Regions from separate parts of the Homo sapiens genome. Here region 1 is linked to region 2. The links come from fine-mapping of genetic effects on gene expression. Tissue or cell type: whole blood. Region 2 holds a variant in brackets; the other region holds the start of a gene. All regions are shown on one strand. Distances are between the middles of the regions.

Evidence for each region. PIP is the estimated chance that this variant, and not a neighbour inherited with it, causes the effect.
Region 1: it holds the start of EIF4ENIF1, and the variant in region 2 is fine-mapped to the expression of EIF4ENIF1 in whole blood (INTERVAL, PIP 0.94).

What each region holds. Positions count from the first base shown.
Region 1 is chr22:31,488,350-31,491,033 of GRCh38, forward strand. It overlaps EIF4ENIF1 (eukaryotic translation initiation factor 4E nuclear import factor 1), which reads right to left and starts at 1,493. Exons shown (of 19, transcript NM_019843.4): 1 at 1,345-1,493; 2 at 274-396. The coding sequence starts at 369. RefSeq lists enhancers at 802-1,425, 1,426-2,048, 2,448-2,507 and silencers at 878-1,167, 1,248-1,897.
Region 2 is chr22:31,573,660-31,576,343 of GRCh38, forward strand. It overlaps SFI1 (SFI1 centrin binding protein), which reads left to right. Exons shown (of 33, transcript NM_001007467.3): 10 at 1,572-1,733. Among named protein-coding and RNA genes, the nearest start is that of MIR7109, 47 kb to the right of the region's middle. The variant CGT/C (reference allele first, on the strand shown) is at 1,426.

The DNA.
Region 1 (2,684 bases), 85 kb before region 2:
GAACTTACAAAGTATACTGATCCGCAATTTTAAAAAAATCTAAGCCTACATTCCCTTCACCTAAAAGCCTCTCAAAGCAAATTCCAGCTTAAACGCTGGGTATCTACACTTGCAGAAAAATGTTCAAAGTAATGCACTACTAAATTTAGTTAATATTTAGTCCATGTAGTGAGTCAGAATGAGATTACCACTTAATAGGAATGAAATAGTTATACAATGTTACTAACTTCGCCACCTAAAAAGAAACACTATTTCATTAGTGGCAAACCTTACTTTTGTATAGCGATGGGGGCATTTGGAGGCAGGAGGCTTCTTCAGGTCAAGGAAAGCATCTCCACTTTCTGTTTCACCCATACTTCTCCTATCCATGGCTCCTTGGTCTACAATGCTCTGCACCTGGAAGATAAATCGGCACAAAATTGTCACCGAGAACAGTAAGTTTTCAGAAATCTTGGCTGTTTCTTCAGAAGCTGAAACTTTTTAATCTCTCAAAACAGCTAGTGTTAAAAACAAGTCCCCACCCCAAAATTATGCTATAAATTAGAACTTGGAGATAGAATCATTGGTACTCAGTTCTCTTTCCTAGTATCCTAAGCATCAACATGGTAAAAAGTAGAAGGTGCCCAATTCAAGGTATATAACCTTTAAGCAGCTTTAACACAAGAGAAACCAAGATTAGTAGCTGCCACCCATGGGGATCTTTCAAGACTGGTGGGGAAGTTTCCCGGAGTGGGGGCAGGTAGAAGACTGGTTAGGCTGGGAACCCGCGAAGTCTGTTGGAAAGTGCCTGTCACTTGCCAATGGACGGCGCCAGCTGCCCCTTGTTATCCGGCGATCAGGGACTGGGGACGGGGCCCGAGCGCCCCTCGCCAGGCCAGCCGCACCTGTGGCCATGTCAGGGGCGCCGATGGCAAGGAAAGGGCGAGCACCGGCTTCAGCTCCGAAACTTGGCTTCCCCGGGCCGCGACCCCAACCCGCAGCCCCTCACGCAGGCCCGGGCCCAGCGGCCTCCTTCGGAGGAAGGGCGGAGACCGTACTCACTGAGGGGCGGCCGGCCGCAGGGAGGAGGGAGGCCGAATCTCCCGGCCCGGGCGCTTCAAGCTGGAGCTAGCGCAGGCCCGCAGCCGTCCTCCCCGGCCCGGCGGCTCGGTCCCCGCCAGCCAGCCCGCCGGCTACCCGCCGGCCGCCTTGCGGGCCTCGCGCCCCTGCCCACCCCCTGCGGGCGCCCCGGCGCCCGCGCTCACGCACGCGACCCCGGGAGCAATGCGCCCGCGCCCCTTCTACACCCGGGAGCACCGGGCGCGCGGTGCCCCGGACCCAGCCGCCACCGCCGCCGACCCTTACTCGGTGCCTCCGCCGCTCGGCGGCCCTTTGCCTCGGCCGCCGCTCCCCTCCCCGCTGCCCGCACCGGTCCCAGCGCCGCTCCCCGCAGCCTTCGCTCTCGCGCCCCCACCCCGACCGGCTTGGGCTGTCTCTCTTCAGCCGCCGTAACTGCAGCCCGGCCCTCCGCCCCTCCTCTTCGGCCCCCTCCCCCTTAATAACTCCCTCCACGCACCCTGGCCCCGGCGCCGCCTTCCCCGCCGCGCGCCCGGATGTGAGGTGGCTGCAGCGGTGCCGGGCGAAAAAGAAGCATCGCCGCGCGCTTCCCGGACGCCAGCCCCTGCGCGGGCCGGGGGGTGGGAAGGTGGTGGCGGCGAGGAGGAGGCCACGGTGGGGATAGCGGAAACCCGCTCCCGTGCGCGCAGGCGGTCGCCGTGGGCAGCCCAGAGGCCACCGCCGCCGCGTTCCCACGCGCGCTGCAGGGCAGAGCGGACGGCACTTGGGACCCGCGACTCGCGGCACGCCACTCTCCCGGAGGCGGTGGCTAGATGGGGCTGGGCTGGCGGCTAGCACGGCCTGTGGCGCGACGACCGCTGTATTTGCATGGTTCGCATAGGCAGAGAACCGTGGGGCTTCGGCAGTGGGAATTTGAGATAGGAGATTGGGGTCTTCCGAGCCTTCCCAGTGCGGGTTCGAACCTCAGCTGTTTTGCGAGTGGCGTGATCTTAGGCAAAGCTGACTTAACCTAAGTTTCGGTCGTGTTTCTAAAATGGCCTCTGTAAATCTATGAGGCTTATGCGCGAGTACTGGTTGCTGCATTAAAAGACAAACTTGTCACGATTGGCTTTGATAGCGATAAAGGCGACTAACAAATTCATTGAAATGTTGTTTCCCTCCGGTAACCTGAATCTGTCCTTAGCCTGCACAGAAAGGGGAAGTGCGAGTGGAGTTGGGGAAATGAGACGGCGAATGTCAAGTGCTTACCACGTAGTGCAGACTCAGGCTGACAGGGGGCCACAGAAATGCAAATATGTGAGCAGTGTGGGTAACTGCATCCTGGGGAGGAAGTCCTATGTGCTGGAATACCACAAGCACCCATTTCTGCCCTGTGGTACTGCGCAGCGTTGGTGTGAAGCGATACATAGGCGTGAAGTCCCGAGAACGCAATTTTCCTGGTTAAAGGACAGCAACGTCTACATTTCTTCCAAGAGGCCTACTTTGTTGGAACTTCACTTCACTTGTGAAATTAGGGTGTTGGGCAGTGAGTGACCACTAACTCAGCTCCCTTCTTGTGAATCTTGGCAACAGAAAACTTTTCGTTTGTATTACTGAATAAAGTGTGTTTCTTACAAACTGTTTTTTTA
Region 2 (2,684 bases):
ACTCCTGACCTCAGGTGATCCGCCTGCCTCAGCCTCCCAAAGTGCTGGGATTGCAGGCGTGAGCCACTGTTTCCGGCCTCTTCTGTATATTTTTTATCTAAATAGGGTTTTCATTTTGCTATAAGTATTGTAATTATTTTGATTAATATGTTGATAACCTATGGTTTTGTATCTTCCTTTTTTCCACACAGTTAATCAACACTTCCCTACATCTTAAGTATTTGTCGTAAATGTTATTTTTTAACAACTATTCATATTTTATAGGATGGCTTACCTTAATATACTTAGCCATTCTCCTATTAATAGATATTTGGATAGTTTCTGTTTGTCTCCAGTTATGCAAATGCATGTGATTTTGATGTTGAGTTTTTTGGATACTGTTTATATGGTTTTGTTTCCCAATTAGATTCAGAAGTAATAATACATAGAAATGTGAACATTAGTACACTTTTTAACTTAAGTTTATTGAGTTTATACCAAAGTAAGTCAAGCACTGTGCTAGACACTGGGTTAAGGGTCTCTGGCGTTCACCCAAACCTCCCTGCAGAAATCTCTTACGCTGCCAACACTGTCTCTTGGGAGAGTTTGAATATGTTCATTGGAGGATAGTGACCCCAGACCAACAGTCCAGTTGCCCAGTCCTGGAATGTGAAGGCATTAAGCTGTTTAGTATGATAAGCTATAGACTAATGCCTGCCTCCAATTACAGCATTCAAATTCCAGGTCTGATTCCCATCCCCTTCCCAGGCCCTAGCTCATCAGACCATTATCTGACTAGCATTAAAAGGAGATGAAGCTGGCAGCCAGGATCAGGTTGGCTGAAAGCTCAAAAAAGCCTATGCCAGCGTGGCAACTGAATTTTATGTCATTGACTCAATCTCTAAGTCCTATCCAGGAGACATTTGTTTAGAAGCAAAAGTAAAACAGTCCTTTTTGAAAGTAACAGTTTTCATTTCTGTTCATCAGTATCTAACTAGAAGCCTCAGCCCTTTGATGTAACTGATTTTATAGCATCCTCCTCCCTAAAATCACAGACCTTTTCTCTTTCCTTGGAGAGAGGAGATGTAGCTCAGGGATTCCTAATGACCTTTCAAGGTTTAAAAAACTTGTATTTTGGCCGGGCGCGGTGGCTCACGTCTGTAATCCCAGCACTGTGAGAGGCTGAGGCGGGCGGATCACTTGAGGTCAGGAGTTCGAGACCAGCTTGGCTAACATGGTGAAACCCCATCTCTATTAAAAATGCAGAAAAATCAGCCAGGGGTGGTGGCACATGCCTGTAATTCTAGCAACTTGGGAGGCTGAGGCAGGAGAATCGCTGGAACCTGGGAGGCATAGGTTGCAGTGAGCCGAGATCCCGCCACTGCACTCCAGCCTGGGCAACAGAGCGAGACTCCAACTCAAAGAAAAAAAAAAAAAAACTTAGTG[CGT/C]GTGTGTGTGTGTGTGTGTGTGTGTGTGTGTGTGTGGCCTTGAACCCCTGCTCTCTGCCAGTAGTGGGGTTCAGCTTGTCTTAAAGATGTTTCCAGCTCATCTAACCTTAGGGGAGTAGCACTTAAGTTATTTCTCTGTTGCAGAGATGGCTGAGCGATTCCATCATGTCACTGTGCTCCAGATATACTTCTGTGACTGGCAGCAGGCCTGGGAGCGGAGGGAGAGCTTGTACGCTCACCATGCCCAGGTGGAGAAACTGGCCAGGAAGATGGCCCTGCGGCGCGCCTTTACTCACTGGAAACACTGTATCCTTTCAGATACTCAGGCTGTCCATTGCCTCAGCCAGGACAGCATGAGCTCAGCAGCATGTGAAACGAAAGTCATGAGATACATGGGAAACAATTGCCAAACGATTCAAAACAGCCTTATCTCTGTTGACAGTCTTAAAATTTTTGTTTAATTGGGATTGTGTATAAAAAGAGTGCTTATATATAGTTTAAAAATAATAAAATGAACAACTATATATCTTATCACCCAACTTTCAAAATAGAACCTTCCTAGCACACCTATTTGCTCCTCCCTGACTGCGTTCTTTTTCTTTTCCCTCAGAGGTAATCCCACTTTCCTGATTCACATTTTTTGGTGTTACAATTTAAGTGCTTTTCTCTACCCACTAGGTGGTGGAAATAGCCACCACTATCTTTTTCTTGGTGATACCATCACCGTGATCATAGTTTCCATTTATTGCGCTTTTACTACGTAGCAGACATTATGCATCATCCTCTTCATCCTCATAGCAACGCTGTGGAGTAGGTGCCACTATTACCATTTTACAGACGAGGAAAGAGATTCAGAGGAGCTGAGTGTATTCTAAAGTCACAGGTCATTGGCAGAGTCAAGATTTTCAAAACCTAGGCCTTTAACTCCTGTGTACATATTCTTTTTTTTTTTTTTTGAGATGGACTCTTGCTCTGTCACCCAGGCTGGAGTGCAGTGGTACAATCTCGGCTCACTGCAATCTCCGCCTCCCAGGTTCAAGCGATTCTCCTGCCTTAGCCTCACGAGTAGCTGGGATTACAGGCATGTGCCACCACGCCTGGCTAATTTTTGTATTTTTAGTAGAGACGGGGTTTCGCCATGTTGGCCAGGCTGGTCTCGAACTCTTGACTTCAGGTGATCCACCCACCTCAGCCTCCCGAAGTGCTGGGATTACAGGCATGAGCCAGCGTACCCAGCCTCTTTTTTTTTTTTGAGAC